Homo sapiens: one gene and its partners. The protein of the gene in region 7 purifies or fractionates together with the protein of the main gene of each other region. This does not show direct contact. Each region holds a gene or a part of one and is shown on either strand. Other genes may lie near its edges.

Region 1 (3,500 bases), on a different chromosome or scaffold from region 7:
GCGCACGTTCTAGGGAGAGAAATTCCGCAGTACAGCAAGAGCTTGCTAAGCTGTGAGCTCAGACTTCTCCCAGGGAGAACTCCCGCACCCAGGCCGGGCGCCAAGTGTCTGAGGTCAATGAGACACTATGCGTGCCAGGTGATGGAGGTTATAGTCCAGCTAACTGTCACAGCCACCCTGTGAGGCAGGCGCTGTGGACATCTGCCCGCCCAGCCTCACACGGTGGACGAGAGTTGGCATCCAGCCTCTGGAAAGGTGGCTCCGGGGAGCTTCACCTGCAGGTGTCCCTGGACACTGGGCCATCCTCTGCCTCCAGGCAGCAGAGGCCACCAGGCGCTCCCTCAAGGACCCCAAGGGTCTTTAGCAAGGGTCTCACAGCCTCAGACAGATATTCCCGCTCACTCCGTTCCCAAGGTTACCAGGCTGGGACACAGAGGACATAAGAGGCTGAGAGGGGCCACGCTGAAGTTGGCAGCCCCCTAAACAGGCAAGCACTTCAAAGGGAGAGTGCAGAGGGACAGGGTGGGCATGGCAAGGGAATGAAGGTAGCGGGGCCGGGCTGGGGGGTCAAGGGGCATCAACCCTTCCTCTGCAATCCTAGAAACAGCATTTTTGTCCCCAACCTCAAGAGTATACACAGAAGCAATAACAACACTAACAATAGTGACCGTTTACTCTGAGCCAGGCACTTGCAAAACATCTTTTCCACGCTAGACCTTATTTAACAATAAGGTCATCCAAATAAGTATTTATTATCTCTCCTGTACTTCCAGTTCTCTAACCTGGACTAAAGGAGGGAAATAGCTTGCCACCAAGTCACAGGGTTAGAAGGAGCAGAAACAGGACTTTAACCCACACAGCTGACCCAGTTGCCCATCACCTCCAGGGTCATCCTAGGGGTCCATCCCCTGCTGCCAGCCCCACTTCAACTCTTCCTTTATGAGGACGATTTCTGCACAGAGTAACAGAACCTGTACCCCACACTGCATGCACCCAGGTGTGACCCCCAAACCTGTGTAATCAGAAACAACCCACAGGGTTTGAGGCTTGGTGTGGCCAAGACAGGGAATTCACCACAGTCCCAAAAAGGGGATCACAGAAAAAGGACCACCTGATCAAAGCCCACTCCCTGCTGCCTCAGTTTCCCAACCTATGAAATGGGCCTAATGCCACTTTCTTCATAGAACAGGACAGACTCTGGAGGTGCTGAAACAAATTCTGGATCCCAGAAATAACACCACCATTAATAACAATAATAATACAATGGAAATGATATGATATCTGGAATTTGCTTTAAAATACCTTGGCAAAAAAGAAAAAATATATGTGCACAGTAGGTAATGGCCAAAAAAAAAAGATCAGATCAGCAGAAAATTTTTGCAGAAGCTGGTGATGGTTACACAGGGGTGGTTGTGCTATTTTCTCAACTCTCGGTGAGTGCTTTAAAATTTCCTTAACAAAAAGTTAAAAAGGCCAGGTGCATAGCTCATGCTTGTAATCCCAGCACTTTGGGGGGCCTAGGTGAGCAGATCACCTGAGTTCAGGAGTTCGAGACCAGCCTGGCCAACATGGTGAAACCCCTTCTCTACTAAAAATACAACAATTAGCCGTGTGTGGTGGCAGGCACCTGTAATTCCAGCTACTCGGGAGACTGAGGCACGAGAACTGCTGGAGCCTGGGAGGCGGAGGTTGCAGTGAGCCGATATGGCGCCACTACACTCCAGTCTGGGTGACACAGTGAGAGCCTGTCTCAAAAAAATAAAAAATATAAGTTAAAATAACAATAAATAAATCTGCCAAGCCGAGTCTAGATGGCAAAAAAAAAGAAAAAAGAAAACAAAATAATAATAAACAAAGACGGCCAGGTGCAGTTGCTCATGCCTATAATCCCAGGACTTTGGGAGGCCAAAGTCGGAGGACTGTTGAGCCCAGAAGTTGGAGACCAGCCTGAGCAATATAGCAAGACCTTGTCTCTATAAAATAAAATAAAATATTTAAAAATAATAGGCCTGGTATGGTGGCTCATGTTTGTAATCCCAGCACTTTGGGAAGCTGAGGCGGGTGGATTGCTTGAGTCCAGGAGTTCGAGACTAGCCTGGCCAACATGGCCAAACACCAGCTCTACAAAATATACAAAATTAGCTGGGTGTCGTGGCCCACATCTGTAGCCATAGCTACTCGGGAGGCTGAGACATAAGAATCACTTGAACCTGGGAGGCGGAGGTTGCAGTGAGCCAAGATCACACCACTGTACTCCAGCCTGGGCGCAGAGAGAGATTCTTGTCTCAAAAAAAAAAAATTAATAAAAATAAAAGATAATAAGAATCAAAGTGAAGCTTCACTGAGCATTCCTGAGAGCCAGGTCCTATCCTAAAAAGCTTCCCAAGTCTTCACTCATTGAAGCGTCACAACACCCAAAGCGGGGAAGCTCTGTTACAGAAGAGGAAATTGTGGCCCAGTGGGTATTTGGGCATTGTCTTCCTTTTTTTTTTTTTGAGACAGAGTCTTGCTCTGTCGCCCTGGCTGGAGTGCAATCGTGCGATCTCAGCTCACTGCAACCTCCGCCTCCCAGTTTCAAGCGATTCTCATGCCTCAGCCTCCTGAGTAGCTGGGATTACAAGCATGCGCCACCACGCCTGGCTAATTTTTTTGTATTTTTAGTAGAGACAGGGCTTCACCATGTTGGCCAGGCTGGTCTCGAACTCCTGACCTCAAGTGATCCGCCTGCCTTGGCCTCCCAAAGTGCTGGGATTACAGGCATGAGCCACCAATGCCAGCCCTGTGCCTTCCATTTAAAATGCCAACACTGATTGCCTAGGGTTTGGGGGAAAGGCCATAGCAACTTGGGTATCTAATCCTATGGGAGACTCTGCTACTTAATAATAATTATTCCAATCACAGCCACTCACATTTTTTGGGCGCTTGCTATACCCCAGGCACTGTGCTGAACACTAAGCATGCCTGAGGTGGGTTTCCTCTCATGCCCACTCTTCCAGTTGGGGAAACTGAGGCACGGTACAGGGAAGCCCTGTGTGCCTCATGCCGGAGCAGCCTGCTGCGTGCCCTCTGCTGCCATGCAGTTTAGAATGCCAACATTGTTCCTTGTGTGCCTTTCAGGAAGACAATGGGGACCTTTCAGAGCGGAGGAGTCAGCATGAGTCCCGCAGGAGAACAGTAATCATAGTGAAAACAACAGCAGCATCATTTGCTAGTTCCTGAAAGCGACTGCCTGCCCAGCTTGGCAGAACATTGCTTCGTTCAGCCTCACAGCAGACCCTACGAGGGAGGCATCATGGGCCCATTTTATAGACAAGGAAACTGAGGCCATGCAAAGGAATTGCTTGCCCAGGGTCACACTGCAATTAAGCAGAGAAGCCAGCATTCCATCCAACACCTGCCAATTAAGGGGGTCACAGTCCCCAGGAGAAATAAACTGCCTAAGAATGACAGGTGACACCGACACTGACTGACAAGGCTACCTTGGCACTTTATGGGTGTTT
Region 2 (3,500 bases), on a different chromosome or scaffold from region 7:
TGGTCAGGGAAGCCTTCCCAGGAAAGCTGAGGTCTGAAGAGGGAATGAAGAGAGAGTGAGCAGTGCTCTGGGGCAAACTGGTTCAATGCCCTGTGCTGGGGGACGGGCCCCTGGGACCTGGAAAGCAGCGTGGCTCCTGTGCAGTCTGAGATGGGCCTGGGTACAGTGAGGAGAGGTGGCCGAGTGTTTGCAGGCAGCACCTGGGTGAGGTGCTGGCTTTGAGGGGACCGCCTGCTTCAGGCAGGGAAGGTGCTGGTGGAGGGCAGCGGGAGGATGGCTTTGGGTTTTGGGTGGTGATGGGATGTTCAATGTCAGAGAACCCTGGGATCGGTGGCTGAGGGAGGGTCGTGTGTTTCCTGTGGACGTTTGAACTGGTGGGACTGGGCCATCTCGCAGAGCCCTCTCAGAAGAGGAAGGAGGGGCTGCTGGGGTAACCCTGTGGCCTGAGAGGTGGGATGCCCGGAGGGGCCGGACAAGCAGATCCCAGGGGAAAGCAGGGGCGTGGGCAACAATGGGAGGAGGGCAGGTGGCTAGGGGGCCCAGCCTCAGGAGGCTGAGGCCCACAGTGAGCGGAACCTTTACGTTCTCCAGAAAATTGGGGAGGAGTTCCTGACTGACCTGAGCCAGCTGAAGAAGCTGCTGCCGCTGGTCAGTGACGAGGTGTTCATCAGGGACGTGGCCAAGGTCAAACAGGTAGGCATGGCCCTGGCCCCAGCCCCGACCCCAGCCCTCCCACAACCAGGCAGGTAGGCCCTGGCCCTAGCCCTCCTACAGGCCCAGCACAGGTCCTGGGGTACCCACTGGGGCTTTAGTGGGGACTCAGAACAGGACTGAGGGTGAGGCTGTTAGGGTTGCCTGAGGTCTCTCCACCCCACTCAGCCTTTCAGATGAGGGCCCCGAGGAGGACAGGTCACATGGCAGATAGGTGAGTGCAGACCCCAGGCCAGCCCTGCCCGTGCCTCGACCCTCTGCCACAGGTCAGTTCTGTATGGAAGCCTCTAGAAGCCGATTCCAGCGTGGTACCCTCTTTGCCCCTGGAGAGCTGTGCAGGTGCACGAGCTGTCTGCACCGGCAGCAGCCTCTCGGCTAGACCAGGGCCAGTCACGGCAGCCTTCAAACCTCAGCGGGCTGGAGGCCCATCTACACAGCCTGTCGAGCTTGGCCTCCTCATAGAGGCCAGAACTAGTTCTCCTTGTAGTCCTTTCAGCCGTCCCGCTCCCGCGCTGCTCCGCCGCCTGCACGCCTGGCTCTGCAGTGTCTTCTGCTTGGCTCCAGGCGTGCTCCTGGGCCGGCTCCTCACTTATCCCCTACTCTTGGTGTGGACCCACCTTCAGCATCCCCCTCTCCCCTTTTCCCATGAGAAGACCCCTGGTGCAATCTCTGCCCCTCAGCTCCAGCCTGTATACCCCTGCCCCCTCCCTGCGGCACTCTTCACAGGGCACTTGAAGCAGGAAGCCGCAGGGTCAGTGGATGGAGTCCTGGTGAAGTCTCCAGCCATCTTTCCCTTTCACCCTCCCAGGAGAACAAGCTCAAGTTCTCGGCCTTCCTGGAGAAGGAGTACAAGGTGAAGATCAACCCCTCCTCCATGTTCGATGTGCATGTGAAGAGGATCCACGAGTACAAGCGGCAGCTGCTCAACTGCCTGCACGTCGTCACCCTGTACAATCGTGAGTGCCGGCATCACCTGCATGACCGCGCTGTGGGGCCCAAGGCTTGCCCTTGCCCGCCAGCTGTGCACAGACCCTGGGCCTCTGTCATGGTGGGGGCTGTGTGTGTATAGGCGTGTGCATGTGTGATGTGGCACGTTTATTTTAAGCAAAAGCCATGTTTTTCTGTGTGCCCCATGCCAGGCCTCACGTGAGCAGGTGAACAGTTAGACACCCGAAAGGCCCAGGCTGGAGTGCAGTGGTGCCATCACGGCTCACTGCAGTCTTGACCTCCAAGGGCCCAGGAAATCCTCCCACCTCAGTCCCCCAAGTAGCTGGGACTACAGGCGCACGCCACTATGCCCTTGTATTTTTTGTAGAGACAGGGTTTCACTATGTTGCCAAGGCTGGTCTCGAACTCCTGGCCTCAAGTGATCTACCCACTTCTGCCTCCCAAAAGGCTGGGGTTATAGGCATGAGCCACTGTACCGGGCCTTCAGTTTTTATTTTAAATTTAGTTATTATCTTTGTGAGACTAATCTTATTTAGAAAGATTATGCTTATTAGAGGCATTTAAAGTATACTTACAAAAATTAAGATAGTATGTGTTAAATTTACACATGCATCTTATATGTCTAAGGACATTTAATTATGAGACAAACATGAAACAGAGACCCCCAAAGGTCAATGTGAATATTTGCTAGGTTTAATAGATAATGAAACCTTAAGGAAAAACTAGGTTTCTAAAATTTTGTAATTTAATAAAGTAGGTATTTTAAAAACCAAAGGAACCACACATCCTCCTTTCCGATACAAAGCTCCTCCCGGGAATAGATCTCCTATTCCCAATGAGTAAGCCTCGATGGGGTGGAGGATCTGGGTGCGTTTGAGACACACATGGTAGGACAGAGGCTAGAGGCCACCCCCGCTGAGGACCCCTCTGCCGTGTGGGCACCACGGGAGGTGCTTCCCGGGGCTGTGGCTTCCCGGCTCCGAGATGGTGCACGGGAACTTTGCATCATCTTTCCTTGCCCCATTTTCCTCCTGCAGTTGTGATGCTCTGTGTTCCCCTGGTGGTGACCCGGAGTCCTCCGCTTGCACAACGCTTGGTCCTATTGATGAGCGGCAGTGAGACTCGCGGGTCACCCCCTCCCTTCCTCCCGCTCCACCACCCCCACAGTCAGTTGCTGCATCGTCTTTTAGTGTTGGCCTTCAGGCTTTCCTCCTCCCGCTCCGCCACCCCCAGTCGTCAGTTGTTGCATCGTCTTCTATTGTTGGCCTTCAGGCTTTCCAGATGCTCCACTTCTGCTTGGTTGGTTCATTCGTTTTGAACGACACGCTGTGATTTCCAGCCGTTCACAGGAGGCAGCCAACAGGCTGGTGCTCGCTCCCACTGGTCTTCCCCCTTGCTCCATGTCTGTGTGTGCACGCATAAATGTATATGTGTGCATGCCTGTAAACATGTGTGCTTGTGTCTGTGCATGTACCTGTGGTGGACCTGCGTCTCCTTCCCCCACTGTCAGAGCTCACAGCATCAATACTTTGCCCTTCCTCCTGTCCCCAGCTGTATCAGTTTGAGTCTGGTGGTGAGTATGTTCACTGCTTCTCACGGTCCTTCTGCAAAGTGCTGCCCAGCCCTGCTGGCCACTTTGTGTCTAGTTCATGACTGGCTCATGGGAACAACCTTCCCGAGTTCTTGCTTGTTCAAAACGGCCTGGACCCTTCACCATGAAGGTCGGTTTGGCTGAAGATGCCAGTCTTAACTCCACTTCCTTCCCCCAGTGCTTTTTAGGGCCCTACCGGGCACTGTCTGGAGGGTGGGTGTGTGTGCAGAAGTCTGGCGATGTCTGAGTT
Region 3 (3,500 bases), on a different chromosome or scaffold from region 7:
GGAGAATGGCGTGAACCCAGGAGGTGGAGCTTGCAGTGAGCCTAGATCGCGCCACTGCACTCCAGCCTTGGTGACAGAGCGACACTCCGTTTCACAAAAAAAAAAAAAAAAAAAAAGTCCGGGCACAGTGGCTCACGCCTGTAATCCCAGCACTTTGGGAGGCCAAGGCGGGCGGATCACGAGGTCAGGAGATCGAGACCATCCTGGCTAACACGGTGAAACCCCATCTCTACTAAACATACAAAAAATTAGCTGGGCGTGGCGGCGGGCGCCTGTAGTCCCAGCTACTTGGGAGGCTGAGGCAGGAGAATGGCGTGAACCTGAGAGGTGGAGCTTGCAGTGAGCCCAGATGGTGCCACTGCACTCCAGCCTGGGTGACAGAGTGAGACTCCGTCTCAAAAAAAAAAAAAAAAACAAAACTAACGTTAGGCAAATTGAACCAAATCATGAACACCAAAAGCACTGTACTTCAGGTGAGTAGATTTGGGCCAATACCAAATCATTACTTGTTGCTCAGTAAACAAAACCAAAGGTGATTAACCAATTAATCAATTTAAAATAGCACCAAACTTTTCTAAAATGGCCTAAACAGACAAAACTTTGACAGCACTTGTGTCTCAACCAAAGCTGAATTCCATTCATGTTACATTTGGTTGAAGTCCCCCTCCCCTTATCATCACATAAAGCCTGAAGCGCCCATGGAATTGCATATCCTTGGTCACCTCCCTCTGCTTCTCTAGTCCTCTCTCCCCTTCCTAAGTCATCAGCTCTCACCTTGAAGCCTGTGGGACACCAGTCTACAAACTGGATGGTCCTCTTGGTCTTGATGGCAGCAATAGCGACATTCACATCCTTGGGCACCACGTCGCCCCGGTAGAGCATGCAGCAGGCCATGTACTTGCCATGTCTCGGGTCGCACTTCACCATCTGGCTGTTGGGCTCAAAGCAGGAGCTGGTTATCTCGGCCACAGAGAGCTGTTCGTGATAGGCTTTCTCGGCAGAGATGATGGGCGCGTAGGTGACCAGCGGGAAGTGGATGCGGGGGTAGGGCACCAGGTTGGTCTGGAACTCAGTGAGGTCCACATTGAGGGCCCCGTCAAAGCGGAGAGAAGCAGTGATTGAGGACACAATCTGACTGATGAGGCGGTTGAGGTTGGTATAGGTAGGGCGCTCAATGTCAAGGTTCCTGCGGCAGATGTCATAGATGGCTTCGTTGTCCACCATGAAAGCACAATCTGAATGTTCCAGTGTGGTGTGGGTGGTCAGGATGGAGTTGTAGGGCTCCACCACTGCAGTAGAGACCTGGGGGGCTGGGTAGATGGCAAACTCCAGCTTGGATTTCTTGCCATAATCCAGGGAGAGGCGTTCCATCAGCAGAGAAGTGAAGCCGGAGCCAGTGCCCCCACCAAAACTGTGGAAAATCAGGAAGCCCTGCAGGCCAGAGCAAGCATCTGTCTAGGGAGAGCAGGACATGAGAAGAAATCATGAAGACAAGTTTCCGAGAACACCCCACAGTAAAAAAGCCAGACCGCCCACTCTGTCTGCCTCATATTTTTTTGTGGATGAAATCAAAACAGCTTTGAAGAAGTAAGGAAACAAAAGGAGTTGTATTGATCTTTGGAGGAGTGGCTAAAATATGGGATGGGGCCAGGCACAGTGACTCAATGCCTGTAATCCCAGCAGTTTGGGAAGCTGAGGCAGGAGGATCCATTGAGGCCAGGAGTTCACAACCAGCATGGGCAACATAGTGAGACCTCGCATCTACAAAAAATTTTAAAAGTTAACTGGGCGTGGTGATGCACACCTGTAGTCCCAGTTACTTGGGATGCTGAGGTGGGAGGATCACTTGAGCCCAGGAGCTCATGGCTGCAGAAATCTATGATCACACCACTGCACTCTGGCTTGGATGACAGAGCAAGTCTCTGTCTCTATTTTTTTTAATAGGATGACAAGCTGCAGGGGCACACGCCTCTAGGTACATGAAGGTTTCAGCCCAGTAACTTGGTTGAACAGGGAATGAGAGTTTCAGAACCACAGTGGATGGTGACTTTGCCCTTTGAGGGCCCCAACTCCTTGCCCACTTTCCCTGCTCTTGTCATTTGATTTTGTGGGAACTGCTGCCGACACACTTCAACCCAACCTTGGAAGGTGACTCAGGGCACCAATTTCAGAAAGGTACATGGAGCCAGAAAGCCTGAGTTCTAATATCAACTTTGCCATTTCTTGGTTGTAAGAACTTGAGCAAGTTACTGAACCTCTCCAAACTTCTGTTCCTTTTTTTTTTTTTTTTTTTTTGAGACAGAGTCTCGCTCTGTCGCCAGGCTGGAGTGCAGTGGTGCAATCTTGGTTCACTGCAAACTCCGCCTTCTGGGTTCAAGCAATTCTCCTGCCACAGCCTCCTGAGTAGCTGGGACTACAGGCGCATGCTACCATGCCCAGCTAATTTTTTGTATTTTTAGTAAAGATGGGGTTTTAACATGTTGGCCAGGATGATCTCAATCTCTTGACCCCGTGATCCACCCCCCTCAGCCTCCCAAAGTGCTGGGATTACAGGCATGCGCCACCATGCCTGGCCACTTCTGTTCCTTCTTAGTGAAAATGGGGACAATAGAAAATCCTCATAAGGTTATTGTGACAATTAAATAAAATAGCATAACATGCTGAGCAAGGGCCTGATACGTTGTAAGCACGGATGTCAGCTCTCACCAGAGAATTCATAGAATCACAGGATTTTCCCACTGGGTGTGATTTGAACTTTTGGGGACCACAGACAGCTTTGAGGCCAATGACCCTGACAAGCCCTCCTCTAAACAGAAAAAGTGAATATATGCAAAAGTTTGGCACCCTTACCTCCCAGGGAAAGAACATGTGATCAGGTCCAAGCTTTTCCATTATACAGATAAGCAAATGGAAGCTTAAATAAATAAAGTGACACAACCTACAACTCAAGAGCTTTGTAGTCCAACTGAGTTCAAACCCCAGCTCTGCCACTTTTTAGCTGTGTGACCCAGGCTAAGATATTGAACCACCCTGGCCCTCAATTTCTTCATCTGTAAAGCACAGGAAGGACACCTCCTAAGTCTAATTATTAAGGATTAAATGAAGGAATGTGCTTAACATCTGTAATGGCACTTGTAAGTGCCCAAATGTATCAACAATCTCTTCCTCTCCTCTTCCAAGTTAAATGCTTTGTTAACCTGTGTTTCCGACCAGCAGAGACCTCATCCTGCCTTATACCCGGAACCTTCCCCAGATACTAACAGAGAGTATCAATGAGTATGAGTAGGGCCTCAGCCTGGAACACAGTCTATGATGCCAACACAGAGGAAGGGGCATCACCCCTGTGCATGCTTCTTACAGAATTTAAGCAGAAATTCCCAAACCTTAGGAGCTCCATCCTATAGCCAGGGGTCAGATGCCTCTCCCTAGCCTGATCAAAGAGGCATGGGGCCAAGCCTGTCCACTCCAGCCTGACCCACCCGTCCCCTGCCCTCCTGATC
Region 4 (3,500 bases), on a different chromosome or scaffold from region 7:
GTGGTGGTGGGCACCTGTAGTTCCAGCTACTCAGGAGGCTGAGGCAGAAGAATGGCATGAACCTAGAAGGCAGAGCTTGCAGTGAGCCGAGATCGCGCCATTGCACTCCAGCCTGAGCAACAGAGCGAGACTCTGTCTCAAAAAAAAAAAAAAAAAAAAAAAAAAGAGTTACCAGGCCGAGTGCAGTGGCTCACGCCTGTAATCCCAGCACTTTGGGAGGCCAAGGTGGGCGGATCACTTGAGGTCAGAAGTTTGAGACCAGCCTGGCCAACATGGTGAAACCCCGTCTCTACTGAAAATACAAAAATTAGCCGGGCATGATAGCACGCGCCTGTAATCCCAGTTACTTGGGAGGCTGAGGCAGGAAAATCGCTTGAACCCGGGAGGTGGAGGTTGCAGTGAGCTGAGATCGTGCCATTGCACTGTAGCCTGGGTGACATGGCGAGACTCCGTCTCAAAAAATAAAAATTAAAATTAAAAAAAAAGAAAAAAAGTAAGAGTCACCAATGCATTCCTCCGCTGCACCTACAGTAGCCAGTCACCAAAGTGTTTCCCCCTCCTGCTCTGGTATCATTTGTGCTCATTCCTTCCTCTCCTACTGCTTCAGTTCAAGCCTCATCATCTCCAGCCTGGCCTCCTGCAACAGCCACATACCTCACTGCCCTGCCTCCAGTCTCACGTACCTTAAACTGAACTGCAAACCACTGCCAGAGAGACCTTTCTAAACCCTTCGACGCTCCACTGCTGCCTAAGGGAGAAATGTCATACCCAGTACTTTTTTTTTTTTTTTTTTTGAGACCGAGTTTCGCTCTTGTTGCCCAGGCTGGAGTGCAATGGTGCTATCTCAGCTCACCACAACCTCTGCCTCCTGGGTTCAACTGATTCTCCTGCCTCAGCCTCTTGAGTAGCTGGGATTACAGGCTTGCGCCACCACGCCTGGGTAATTTTGTATTTTTATTAGAGACGGGGTTTCACCATGTTGGTCAGGCTGGTCTCGAACTCCTGACCTCAGGTAATCCACCTGCCTCAGCCTCCCAAAGTGCTGGGATTACAGGCATGAGCCACCACGCCCAGCCATACCCAGTACTTCTTAGGAGAGGCAGGAGCTGGCCTTATCGCAACATAGGAAGTCCTTTCTGATCTCTGGCCTCAGTGCCTACTGTTCTCCTACAAGCATCCTCAGCTCCAGGCAGACTGGACCCTAACCCAAGAGCTTCGTCATGCATGGGTGCTTCTGCCCAGCTGTTCCTTGGCTAGGCTGCCTTCTCTTGTCCTGGAAAGCCTCAGACCTCCCAACACAGCCCCGACATCACTTCTTCCGCGGAGCCCTACCTCCCTGGCTCGCATAGGTGGAAATGCCCACCCTCTCTTACTCTCCTGTGATAGCCTGTGCACGCCTGCATTTATCATTTCGCACACGTGCTTCCTCCCATGAGCCTCTGTGGACAGGCTCTGTGGCTCACTTGTCCTTGACTCCCCAGTGCAACGCACGGTACCTGCATACAGTGGGAGTTCATTAAGTGTTTACTAAATGAAAAGGAGGAGATGGTGGCCAGACTGAGGAAATGGAGCCTCATATGTCTCCCAGAGCCTTCTGACTACTGAACACACGTTGGTGTTCCCTTTCCAACAGCACATGGTTGACCTTGGTGGGGCCTGGGAAAGAGGTGGGGAAGGAATAACTACACGCTGGGTTAGCTCCAATCTGGTTTTGAAGAGAAAGTCATAAACTCATGCTAGTCTTGACTCCTATAAAGACCTTTAATACCCACACTAAAATGGAAGTAGCATTTTGTCACCAAATGAATAAAACTGTCACTTTTGAGCTTAGACAAAACACTGTTCCTCCCTGAGCATCAGTTTCCTTAAATAGGGATGATAATAACTGCCTGGTTTATATCACAGGCTGATACATGGGTAAAAATGAGAAAGTAAAGTAAAAGTGCTTCGTAGACAGTACCTAGCAGGTAGGTGTAAAAGGCAGTATCATGACTACGGTGATGATCCGGCGGGATTGGTTTAGGAGGCAGAACATGTCCTAACAGTGGGTAAGCAGAAGCTTCGGCTTTGGGTAGCCTACTCTAAGCGACTATGATAAAACATACAGTCTAGGCCAGGTGCAGTGGCTCATGCTTGTACCTTGGGAGGTCAAGGCTGGGGGACTGCTTGAGGCCAGGAGTTCACAACCAGCCTGGACAACATAGCCAGACTCTGTCTCTACAAAAAATAAAAAATAAAAAATGAAGTACAATCTAAAAAAAAGCTTCTGATTCGGACAACCAGGACCTGACATGGAGTCTGTCACTTACAAGTTATGTAACTTTAGACACGTAACTTAACCTCTCTGAGCCTCAGTTTCCTTAACTGGAAAATGAGAATACCATTACCTATCTTGCAGAGTTATCGTGAAGTTTAAATGAAAAGATTTAGGTCAAGTGCCTCGCAAAATACCAGCGAAACAGCAGGCACTGAATTGATACACAGAATTCTTTTTTTTTTTTTTTGAGACGGAGTCTCACTCTGCAGCCCAGGCTGGAGTGCAGTGGCGCAATCTCGGCTCACCGCAACCTCCACCTCCTGGGTTTAAGCGATTCTCCTGTCTCAGACCCCCGAGTAGCTGGGATTACAGGCACGCGCCACCACGCTCAGCTAACTTTTTGTATTTTTAGTAGAGACTGGGTTTCACCATATTGGCCAGGCTCGTCTTGAACTCCTGACCTCAGGTGATCTGCCCGCCTCAGACTCCCAAAGTGCTGAGGTTACAGGTGTGAGTCACTGCACCTGGCCAATTCTTCTTATTAATGCATTCATCCAAGTTTTCATTCTCCTGCAAGGAAGACACAGAGATGCAACTCACCCTGGAATTCAAGAAGGAGAGAGGAATTGGCTGAGGCATCAGAAGGAAAGCCATTAGGTTCTCGGGCTGCTGAACTGTTCGATTTTGACTTTTCTTTCTAGAAAAGGAAAAAAAGAGGAATATGACAGAGCCAAGCAGGAGACTCACAGAGAGGGAGGAGGGTGCTATGTGACAGACCACAGAGGTCTGGATTAGGACTGAACAGGAAAAACGACAGCAGCGTGAGAATCCAAGGACCCAAGGAAGAACAGAATCCTGGACAAGCAACTTCTCCTCAAGCCTCAGAAAAATGAACCCTTCCAGCAGGAATACTGTGAATCATAAGCAACAGGCAGATACATACACTTCGACTAGAACATCCCATAGTATCCCTCTCCTGCCCTGATCAAATTGCGCCAGGCAACCCTTCTCTATACGAATGGGCAAGAAATACAAAACACTCATTTGAGAAAGATTCCTGTTTCAGTAGCAGAGTGGGGAAAAAGTGAGAGAAGAAGGAACCTCATGTAACACAGACAGTGACAGGACAAATGGGCCCAGGCTGGCTCTATTCCTGATCCGTCATCCTCATCCATTCAAAACGACCACCCCAGCCGGGCGCACTGGTTCACGCCTGTAATCCCAGCACTTTGGGAGGCCAAGA
Region 5 (3,500 bases), on a different chromosome or scaffold from region 7:
TCAGGCCGCCGCCAGTGCTCACCGTCGGGGTAGTACTGCTGGCCCATGGGCTCCGCGGCGCCCTGGCTGTGGCTGTACTGCTCGCCATAGTACTCCTCCTGGCCCAGGTACTGCTGGGAAGAGCCTGCGGGGGAACCACATTCAGCGCCAGTGCGGGCCGCGCCCTCCTCCCTCAGAGGACCTGCTCGCTCACTGGGGAAGCCAAGGCCTTGCTGAATGGCCTCACCCACCCGAGGAGAACACCCCACGCTGTCATCGTATCCAACTTATGTTTTGTATTTTTAGTACAGAGTTTCACCATGTTGGCCAGGCTGGTCTTGAGCACCTGGCCTCAGGTGATCCGCCCACCTCGGCCTCCCAAAGTGCTCGGACTACAGGCATGAGCCCGGCCTGTGACACTCTTAATGACAACTGCCGCCCCTGCCCCCAACACTGACTCCTCGGGGACAGCAGACCCTCCACGGGCCACACCCTGGCCCTCACCCCCAGGGTCCACACTCAATGTTAACACCAAGGCGCCAAGCCTCACTCCCCCAGGCTCCCCGCCTCACTCCCCCAGGCTCCCCGAAGAGAAGCACACACAGCCTGGCACTTCACGACCCGCGGCGGTCAGCTGTGCCCGCGACCTGGCCCGGCCGGGCGTTACCTTGCTGGGAGGGCCGGTAGGGCGCCATGGGCCGCTGCCCCATCATGCTGCTCCCCTGGCTGCCCTGCCCCATCATGGCGATGGACGACTGGCCCTGGTAGTGCTGGCTGCCGCCCTGCGCCGAGCTGTAGTGCGACGTGGCCGCCTGCTGCTGCATCATGGAGACTGAACGACAGGACAGAGGCCCCACATCACCCCGGGAAGCCTCCCGCCCTCCCTCCCACACCCAACTACCTCCTGCGCCCGGGCGGGTTCCTCGTTATTTTCCTGTGCTCCCCACGAGGACAGCGTCCTCCACCGCAAGGCACGCCTCCCCTACGTGGCCTGCACTGACGCCCTGCAAGCTCAGACCCGCTGCTTGCACCGACTCTACCCCACCTCTGAGAGCCCAGTGCTGTCTGTCCAGACCCAGGGCCAGTGGCCCCCACTCCCTGGGGCATTCCCTGAGACTCCATGGGAAACACCCCAGCCCCTCGCAAAGCTGGGGGACAGGAGGAGTTGATCGTGCACCCACTGGCGCCCATCCCTCCGGAAGCTCTCAGAGGCAGCGGCCAGCCCCGATTCACGGGCCCCTCCCCTCCAGCACCCAGCAGGAGGGCAGCTTCCCCGGGACCACATGTCCAACGTGCATGTGTCAAGGGTCTTGGAGGCAGGCCCAGGCCCCCCGGGGTTGCAGAGGCAGAGTAGGTACCTGGGTTGGACTGCATGTTGATGTTGGTCCGAGACACGTAGTTGCCGATGGTGCCTTGCCCCTGCATGGGGACGCCCTGCGAGGCGGGTCCCGCGTGGCTGTAGCCGGGCCCAGAGATGCTCATGGAGGTGGTGGGCAGCGTGTTAGGCGCCGTCTGCTGCATGGACACGTGGCTCGGCCCTGGCATGGGGAGCAGGGAGTGGTGTCAGGCACTGGGGAGCCAGGTCACCACTTCTGAAGGTGAAGACACCCCAATTTCCCTTCAAGTGACTTTGGGAAGAGTTGCTATCAACAGCACTATTAATGATTAAGTGACTAATAAATAAGTGGCCGGGAGCAGTGGCTCATGCCTGTAATCCCAGCACTTTGGGAGGCCGAGGTGGGTGGATCACCTGAAGTCAAGAGTTCGAAACCAGCCTGGACAACATGGTGAAACCCCGTCTCTACTAAAAATACAAAAAAATTAGCCAGGTGTGGTGGCACGTGCCTATAATCCCAGCTACTTGGGAGGCTGAGGCCGGAGAACTGCTTTAACCCGGGAGGCGGAGGTTGCAGTGGGCCAAGATCATGCCCATTGCACTCCAGCCTGGCCGACTAGAGCGAGACTCTGTCTCAAAAAAAAAAGAAAAGAAAACAAAGCAGCGTACATGCTAGCAAAGCACAGGATGAATCGTTTATTTGTTGTTATTTTGTTATTATTTTCTGAGACAGGGTCTGGCTCTGTCACCCAGGCTGCAGGGCAGTGGCATGAACAAGGCTCACTTCAGCCTCACCCTCCCAAGCTCAAGTGACCCTCTCTCCTCAGTCTCCCGAGTATTTAACAGTTTGGACTACAAGTGTGCACCATCACACCCGGCTAATATTTTTATTTTTTGTAAAGATGGGGCTTTGCCATATTGCCCAGGCTGGTCTCAAACTCCTGGCCTCAAGTAGTCTGCTGGTTTAGGCCTCACAAAGGGTTGGGATTAGAGATCTGAGCCACCACACCCGGCCTGTTATATTACTGTTAATGGTCTCCAAACGTTATCCATGCTTCTCAATCCAAAGACAGGAGCATTCCATTCCTATTACACAATCCACCTGGAACCCCGCAACTTGCATTTGAATTTGATGGAACGTGACAGTGTCAGAGAGAGTGGACAACTGGAGCAGGGGCTCAGCCCAGCCGCACGGCACGCTCGCTGCGGCCCTGAGCCTGGGCGATGGCAGCCGACCTGTGGCTACCCCAGGAGGAGTGGGTCCCATGCCCAGCCCTGTGAGGGGTGGGGTGCCCCACCATGGCAGCCGGCTGCCCAAGGGCTGCCTTGGTGGCCTCGTAGCCAGGAACGTCCTCCTCCCCCGCCGCACTCACCGTTGCCAATCTGGCCCTGCAGGAGGGAGGAGGGTGGCAGGCCCGTGCTGATGGCGTCACTCAGGCTGCCCTGAGAGTGCAGGCCCTGGCTGGAGCCGCTCTGAGTCAGGGCTCCAGGGCCCAGGTTCATGTTCTGCGTGGGCGGCTGCAGGCAACAGGAAGTTTTCAGGGAAAAACGGTTAATTTACGGAGAGCGACCTCCACAAGCCAGGCCAGGGATGAGAGGGCACCCGAGATTTGCCGCCACACATCATGGCCACCTGGTCAATGTTCGTAATCAGCAGCCATCGTCACAGCCAGGTGACCGCAGAGCACCAGGCCCAGATGGAGATGGCAGAGTGAGCATCTGGGTGAGCGTTCACAACCCTACTGAGTATCAAGTTCATCCACACGTGCCTGGGTGTGAAAAGCTGGACCTCCTCCTGGGACAGCAGGGAACCCCTTTCCCGGCCCACCAGGCTGAACGCACCCCGTCCCCCTCGGGCGCAGGTGACCAGCGCCTCTGTGCTCCCCAACCACGACCCCTCCGTGCCAAGAGCTTCGGCAGAGGTGGGATCCCTCTCCTGTTTCCCGTGCTCCTGCTGCATGTGCCCCTTCCCCGACTACCCCCACCCCACACCCGCCTCGGATCACACCGCACAGAAGGGAGTGAGTGTGAAGTGGCCCTCAGCACTCTCCCAGATCAAGGTCAACCAGCAGCTCTGGAGGTCTGCACACACATGCTGTCTACACCTGGCCAAGAAAAGGAAATTTCCACCAGGACCTGTGGGTGTCTGCAGGGTGAAGAAGTGCAATTTGACAGGTCAATGGAG
Region 6 (3,500 bases), on a different chromosome or scaffold from region 7:
GATGGAGACAAGGAAACCAATCGTTTCAATGTCATGCACCAAGGGCTTCAAGGAAAGCAAGCCCAGAATGGTATCAGCATAGGTAATAGCCTGGAGAGGTGGGTAAGGCTTCCCCAAGGTGGAAATACCCAGTTCAAGGGATAGGCCAGGCAGAGGGAAAAACACAGGCAAAGGCACCAAGATGGGAAAAGTTCAGGTAGTAAGATGTGGCCAGAAGACAGAGTAAGTGAGGGAGACTGATGGGAAGAGAGTGACCTTGTCTGAAAGGGTTCCCATCCTGCAGGTGAAAAGCCCAGAAGGTTGCTAAGCAGAGGGATGAGGAATGTGTTTCAGAAATCCCTCATGAGAAGAGAGGATGGTTACAGCCATTTCAAGAGAGAGAGTTATGGCCACCCTCCTTTAAGATCTTAGAGGATGTAAGGTACTTGATTAGGTTTAAGCAGTCTTCATTCATTTACTCTCAAATGTCTTTGAGTGCCTACTATTTGTATTAGGCACTGTCCTAGGCTCCAAGGACAAGGTAGGGAACAATACATAGGTCCTGCCCTTGGGGAGATTCTAGTCATAACCATTCTGCCCCCGTGCATTTACTCCCAGCACACATTATTGGAGCTTTATTTGGGTGTTTCTAAAACTCTTGAGCTTACCTTGGCAGGTAATTGTGCCATCACATGCACTTTTATTTATTTATTTATTTATTTATTTATTTATTTATTTATTTTTGAGACAGGGTCTCTGTCACCCGGGCTATAGTGCAGTGGTATGATCACGGCTCACTGAAGGCTTGACCTGCCAGGCTCAGTTGATCCTCCTGCCCCAGCCTCCCTAGTAGCTGGGACTACAGGTGCACACTAGCACACCAGACTAATTTTTATTTTTATTTTTAGTAAAGATGGGATCTCACTATGTTGCCCAGGCTGGGCTGAAACTCCTGGGCTCAAACGATCCATCCACCCTGGCCTCCCAAAGTGCTGAGGATAGTGCCTGAGCCACCGCGCCTGGCCCGTTGTATGCACTTTTATTTAAATTTAACCCTAAAAAGATAAGTTTAGTGTTTTTGTTTGTTTTGAGATGGAGTTTCACTCTTGTTGCCCAGACTGGAGTGCAATATCATGATCTCGGCTCACCACAACCTCAGCCTCCCAGGTTCAAGTGATTCCCCTGCCTCAGCCTCCCGAGTAGCTGGGATTACAGGCATGCGCCACCATGCCCGGCTAATTTTGTATTTTTAGTAGAAATGGGGTTTCTCCATGTTAGGCTGGTCTCAAACTCCCTACCTCAGGTGAACCACCCGCCTGATGCCTTGGCCTCCCAAAGTGCTGGGATTACAGGTGTGAGCCACTGCGCCCGGCCAAGTTTAGTGTTTTTGTTTGGTTGGTTGGTTGGTTTTTTTTTTGAGGTGGAGTCTTGCTCTGTTGCCCAGGCTGGAGTACAGTGGCACGATCTCAGCTCACTGCAACCTCCGCCTCCAGGGTTCAAGCAATTCTCCTGCCTCAGCCTCCCAAGTAGCTGGGATTACAGACGCCTGCCACCGTGCCGGGCTGATTTTTGTACTTTTAGTAGAGACAGGGTTTCACCATCTTGGCTAGGCTGGTCTCGAACTCCTGACCTTGTGATCCACCCGCCTCGGCCTCCCAGAGTGCTGGGATTCCAGGCGTGAGCCACGACACCTGGCCAAGTTTAGTGTTCTTTTTTTTTTTTTTTTTTTTTTTTTTTGAGATGGAGTTTCACTCTTTCGCCCAGGCCAGACTGCAGTGGTTCTATCTCGGCTCACTGCAAGCTCTGCCTCCCGGGTTCATGCCATTCTCCTGCCTCAGCCTCCTGAGTAGCTGAGATTACAGGCACCCGCCACCGCGCCCGGCTAATTTTTTTGTATTTTTAGTAGAGACGGAGTTTCACCGTGTTAGCCAAGATGGTCTCGATCTCCTGACCTCGTGATCCACCCACCTCAGCCTCCCAAAGTGCTGGGATTATAGACGTGAGCCACCGTGCCCGGCCAAGTTTAGTGTTCTTAAGAGAGGATACTATAATGTTGTTCCTATGAACTGTTGTTTTCATGACAGATGAACTGAAGGCAGGAAGAGCAAATAAAGGACAAAATAAGGGACTATTATATCCCAGATAGGAAATGAAGGCCCTTGCCAAAATCAATCACCCTTCAGTAAGAGGGTATTCAAACTTATCCTCAGCCCAGAGAACAGAAAAGGCCTAGGTGCTCTGCTCTTAAAATCCTACCTTGGCAGCCAGGCGCGGTGGCTGACACCCGTAATCCCAGCACTTTGGGAAGCCGAGGTGAGTGGATCACGAGATCAGGAGTTCAAGACCAGCCTGACCAACATGGTGAAACCCCATCTCTACTAAAAATACAAAAATTAGCCGGGCGTAGTGGCATGTGCCTGTAATCTCAGCTACTCAGGAGGCTGAGGCAGGAGAATCGCTTGAACCTGGGAGGCGGAGGTTGCAGTGAGCCGAGATCGCACCACTGCACTCCAGCCTGGGCGACAGAGTGAGACTCCGTCTCAAACAAACAAACAAAAATCCTATCCTGATTCCTAAAGATTCGCTTCAAGTCCCAGGAAAATGGGTGTTAAGTGTCTCCACCCCCAGGATCTTCACTGGTGGAATCTCCTTACCTGACTAGGAGTGAGACCAGCAATTTCAGGTGTCCCTGTCCCTGGCGCATAGGCAGGATCCAGAGCGTCAATATCAAAGCTGATATAAATGGGTTTGCCTCCCATCTGCTGCCTGACTTCCCCCATCAGAGGAACCAGCGACTTCATCCAGCAGTCTTCAGCCAGGACTACCCGGAAGCCCTGCAGAGACAGGGACTGAGGTTTCTGTCTGGCAGCATTTACAGGGCATTTCCTGTTTGCCAGCCCCATGCTCAGCTCTGTGTGCACATGACACTTGACCCTCCATCTCCATGAAGAGGGAACTATCCTATTTTACAGGTGAGGAAGGGAGGGACAATGAGTGGTAAGGAAGCAGGGTCAAAGCTGACTGATGGAGTTGGAATCAGAGAGAAGCTTTGCTAAAGCAAGAGTGGGAAACAGCAGCTCACGCTAGCACCTTTTGAATTGCTCTGTCCAGAAGACTGGCCTTGGCACGCTCTAAAAGCAAGGGATTTGGGTCTGTTCCATTGGGGTCTTGTCATACACGTCTATCTGAGAGCCATTCTGCCTAGAGGGTACGAGGACCAGAACTAAGAAGGTGGCAACTCATCTTGGGTCCGGACTTCCTCCCCTCTTTTTTTTTTCTTTTGAGATGGAGTCTCACTTTGTCACCTAGGCTAGAGTGCAGTGGCGCGATCTCAGCTCACTGCAACCTCCACCTCCCACGTTCAAGCAATTCTCCTGCCTCAGTCTCCCGAGTAGCTGGGATTACAGGTGCGCACCGCCACACCTGGCTAATTTTTGTATTTTTAGGAGAGACGGGGTTTCACCATGTTGGCCAGGCTGGTCTCGAACTCCTGACCTCAGGTGATCCACCCACCTTAGCCT
Region 7 (3,500 bases):
GAGACAAGAGCAGCCCCCGCACTGAGAGTTCTAAAATGTGGCCACCCTGGTCGTGAATAATGACCATGTCACCCTAATTATTTGTTTAGATAACAATCTTCTCTCCCCCATCCTAAAATTCCCAGTCAGGTCTCAGTAGACAATAGCGAACAAACACTACGTGGAAGGAAGAAATTACTTGGAAAAAGGAATTCAGAGCGTCGCATCAATACTGAAGGTTTCTCAAAGCTGCAGCCCCCTGTATCCAGCATTCGGACACATGATTGGGCAGCCTTCGCTCCCCTTCCTGGTTCTTCAGTCCCACCAGGAGAAGCTGAACCAGGTCTCCAGAACCAGGTGGGCTGAGAGGCAGAGGCTTGACCGTCTTCCTCTGTCCATAGGCCATGACTGGTCTCACCTAAAGGATGCCCCAGCTCTGAAGGTCAAGGAACCAGCCTGGCCTCTTGCAAAGTCTCTCCCGATGGATAACAAGTACTGACTGGCTATGGCGGGGCCTTGGCACCATTTCCACAATGTTTCCTCCCATGTCTCTGCGCGTCTCCCTCCCTCCCCGCCCCCATCTAGTAACTTTAAGCAGTGGCTCAAGACCAGGCTGGCTGTGGATGCCACTGCTGGGGTTCTAGAAGGCAACTCTTTGTCTCCACAGACACCAAGGAACAAGAAAGGGTTTCAAGACCCCAAGTCTAGAAGTTTCCAGTGAGGCTTGCCATAAACGACAACTTCTCCACAGCCCTTTGTTCCTCAGGTGAGAATTTCAGGATGCAGACCCTAAGCTGGGGGCACGGGGGCTGTGCCAAGATTTCTTGGAACACAATAGATAAAAAAACACCACACTACACACAAGTAATGGATGAGTGGTCAGGAAATGGCTTCCCTTAAAATGGGAACCAATGAGAGGGCCTCGGTGCTAGGGTAAAAGTGAGAGGGGTTCCACAGGGCTGGGGCCGGAGGTGTTCTCCCAAAGTGCAACTTCCTTCCGGTAGAGACAAGGAGGTGCTGGCTGAAGTTCCGTACATATCGGGGGAGGTCAGGAGATGCCTCACCCTCTTCGTTCCATGTGTCCCTGCCCCTCTGGGACTATTTCTTTTCCTTGCAGTTGGTCTGGCTGGATATGTGGGAGGAGGGCGCGTTCTGGTTTGAACTGGGCTCTGCTTTAGGATCTCCAGCAGCGAGTCACATTCTGTGACCTGGGGCCCTAGGCCTGGCAGCCAAAGGCTGAGGCTTTCTCTTTGAGCAGTTCCCAGCATAAGTGGCAGCTCCAGCTTCCTGCAAGAAATGAGACGGCTTTAGTAGCAGCCCCTCTGCTAACTCTGGAGCCCCACCCCACTGGCCCTAACTTCTTGTAAATCCTGTTTCCTTTGAACTTTGGCAATGCAGAAACCAAGTCCCAGGCCTGAAAACGTGCCAGAGTCTGTGGCTCAGCAGAAAGCAGGTGCTCAGAGGAGATGGGCTCAACTCTTATCAAGACCCTCACTACTAGCGTCATGCCTCCAAACTAGTGTCGCCGGGCCTGCGCCAGTTCTCCTGGAAGCTCACACCTCCCGGTCATCTCCACTGCATGTCTGGGAAAAACTTCCTTGGCCCTCAAGTTGAAATTTCAGCTGCTTGGACTGTGCCTCAGTTTCCTCATCTGTAAAATGGCAGTCGTCGTACCTACCTTGTGGGGTTGTGATGATTAAATGAGACAAGACATGAACATGTAAACCCATTAGCATAAGGCCTGTACCATAGTGAGAGCTCAGTAAGTGCTAGTAGTAGTAGTATCTGTTGCTGTTCTTATTGTTGACTTCATCATCATTACCTTCTGGGGGCTCAGCCACCGGGGGATTTAAACAGTACATGTGATAGCCTCGGTCACAGTCATCGCAGAAGAGTAGCTGGTCCTGGTGGAACACAGAGTAAGCACAGAGGAGGAGAGATTCCATTATTCGGGGCCAATGTCTGGCCCCCGCTTACCCATCAGCCTTATTTCCACGTCGGTCTCACTGGATCCCCTTTCCAGGCCCCACTTGGAGTCCTCACTGTCCCCTGAACACGCCTGTGCTTTTCCCACAACTGGAGTTTCCCCCTCTACCTCCCAGCCTATATAAATCCTACCCCCATTTTAGGGTTCTGCTCAACTCGTACCTCCTCCAAGACGCCTTCTGTGACTAACACCTCACATCCAAATTTAAAGGGATCCCTTATTCTTCTGAACTTCCAAAGCCAATAGCTCTGCTTCCAAAGGGCAGAAAATGTCTCTATTCTCCATGACTTTATATATTTGAAGATCTTAATTGAATTCTTCTGGACTCCACTCTCTCCATCTGTGAAATGGCCAACAGCTGTACTGGGATGAACCTCAGAACCTCTTCAGGGTTTCATTAGAATGTAGAAAAATGCAAGTAGCGCCATCCCTCGGCTTCCAGAAGCTTCCTCACTGTCTGGAGGCTGGAGCCCGGGTGAGAGCAGGGCACCCCAGGGTTGTGGTTAACTTCAAAGGACACAGGCCATATCTTTGCACCTATGGCTACTTCTGCCTGGAGGCTCTCCCAGGCCCTGACCCTTTCTCTGCATGTCCATTCCCTGCCTGCCCTTCAAGTACGTCTTCTTCAAGCACTTCTTTTCCACAAAGTCTTTGCTAATCTACCTCAACTGGAAGTTGTCTCTTCCCTCGTGCAGCCCTGTGGTACTTTCCCTTTCTGTGACATTTAAATGCATTTTCCTTTACGTTACATGCCTGGCATGTGGTAGACATCTAATCACGTTTGTTTTCTTGGCTGGGCGCTGTGGCGCATGCCTGTAATCCCAGCACTTAGGGAGGCCAAGGCGCGTGGTTCACTTGAGGTCTGGAGTTCGAGACCAGCTTGGCCAACATGGTGAAACCCCATCTCTACTAACAATACAAAAATTAGCCAGGCATGGTGGCGTGCACCTGTAATCCCAGCTACTCAGGAGGCTGAGGCAGGAGAATCTCTTGAACCCGGGAGGTGGAGGTTGCAGTGAGCCAAGATCGCACCACTGCACTCCAGCCTGGGCAACTGAGTGAGACTCTGTCTCAAAAAAAAAAAAAAAAAGACATCTACATGTTTGTTTTCTTGAATAGTTCATTTGGAACATGCCTCTTTTTTCCACCCTTTATCCCCTTTATGGACTATAAAGCCCTTGGGGGCAAAATCTTGTTTTCCTCATCACTGCATCCACTGTAGAGACTTCCTTGCATACAGGAGCTGCTCGGAAACTGTTTGTGATCTGGCCCCACCCCCTAGTTTCAGCTCTGTTCTATTTGGTGATTGTTGAAACTGTTTGGATGGCTTATGAGCCTTTTTCAAAATAAAGTTTTATATCAAATCTCACCTTGGCCCCCACCAGTGCAGAAATCCTGGATAAAATTAGATATAGCTGTTGGAATCCCCAGGGAGCAAGCAATGAGGGCTTTTTTTGTCATGCTAAAACCCGTCAGTGGGGCAACAGGAAAGCTTTTGAAGAGTTATCAACAGGGGAGTGATACGATCAGATTG

Evidence for each region.
Region 1: the proteins of DPF3 (region 7) and BICRA purify together in Homo sapiens (affinity purification with mass spectrometry, with the first as the bait; one large-scale study listed by BioGRID). This does not show direct contact.
Region 2: the proteins of DPF3 (region 7) and PYGB purify together in Homo sapiens (affinity purification with mass spectrometry, with the first as the bait; one study listed by BioGRID). This does not show direct contact.
Region 3: the proteins of DPF3 (region 7) and TUBA8 purify together in Homo sapiens (affinity purification with mass spectrometry, with the first as the bait; one study listed by BioGRID). This does not show direct contact.
Region 4: the proteins of DPF3 (region 7) and BCL7B purify together in Homo sapiens (affinity purification with mass spectrometry; 3 studies listed by BioGRID and IntAct, with this or other methods). This does not show direct contact.
Region 5: the proteins of DPF3 (region 7) and SS18L1 purify together in Homo sapiens (affinity purification with mass spectrometry; 4 studies listed by BioGRID and IntAct, with this or other methods). This does not show direct contact.
Region 6: the proteins of DPF3 (region 7) and AGMAT purify together in Homo sapiens (affinity purification with mass spectrometry; 3 studies listed by BioGRID and IntAct, with this or other methods). This does not show direct contact.

The regions. Positions count from the first base shown.
Region 1 is NC_000019.10:47,615,634-47,619,133, reverse strand, and holds part of BICRA (BRD4-interacting chromatin-remodeling complex-associated protein), read right to left. Parts: intron 1-3,500. UniProt on the Homo sapiens protein: Component of SWI/SNF chromatin remodeling subcomplex GBAF that carries out key enzymatic activities, changing chromatin structure by altering DNA-histone contacts within a nucleosome in an ATP-dependent manner.
Region 2 is NC_000020.11:25,282,585-25,286,084, forward strand, and holds part of PYGB (glycogen phosphorylase, brain form), read left to right. Parts: intron 1-591; coding exon 592-693; intron 694-1,519; coding exon 1,520-1,667; intron 1,668-3,500. UniProt on the Homo sapiens protein: Glycogen phosphorylase that regulates glycogen mobilization. Phosphorylase is an important allosteric enzyme in carbohydrate metabolism. Enzymes from different sources differ in their regulatory mechanisms and in their natural substrates.
Region 3 is NC_000022.11:18,124,309-18,127,808, reverse strand, and holds part of TUBA8 (tubulin alpha-8 chain), read right to left. Parts: intron 1,456-3,500; coding exon 775-1,455; intron 1-774.
Region 4 is NC_000007.14:73,540,691-73,544,190, forward strand, and holds part of BCL7B (B-cell CLL/lymphoma 7 protein family member B), read right to left. Parts: intron 2,955-3,500; coding exon 2,858-2,954; intron 1-2,857. UniProt on the Homo sapiens protein: Positive regulator of apoptosis. Plays a role in the Wnt signaling pathway, negatively regulating the expression of Wnt signaling components CTNNB1 and HMGA1.
Region 5 is NC_000020.11:62,160,769-62,164,268, reverse strand, and holds part of SS18L1 (calcium-responsive transactivator), read right to left. Parts: exon of another isoform or gene 2,834-3,500; coding exon 2,689-2,833; intron 1,518-2,688; coding exon 1,338-1,517; intron 812-1,337; coding exon 647-811; intron 125-646; coding exon 23-124; intron 1-22. UniProt on the Homo sapiens protein: Transcriptional activator which is required for calcium-dependent dendritic growth and branching in cortical neurons. Recruits CREB-binding protein (CREBBP) to nuclear bodies.
Region 6 is NC_000001.11:15,575,052-15,578,551, forward strand, and holds part of AGMAT (guanidino acid hydrolase, mitochondrial precursor), read right to left. Parts: intron 2,814-3,500; coding exon 2,634-2,813; intron 1-2,633. UniProt on the Homo sapiens protein: Hydrolyzes linear guanidino acids to form urea and the corresponding amines. Displays specificity for substrates having a negatively charged head group and short chains including taurocyamine, guanidino propanoic and butanoic acids.
Region 7 is NC_000014.9:72,618,102-72,621,601, forward strand, and holds part of DPF3 (zinc finger protein DPF3), read right to left. Parts: intron 1,884-3,500; coding exon 1,802-1,883; intron 1,267-1,801; coding exon 1,196-1,266; 3' UTR 1-1,195. UniProt on the Homo sapiens protein: Belongs to the neuron-specific chromatin remodeling complex (nBAF complex).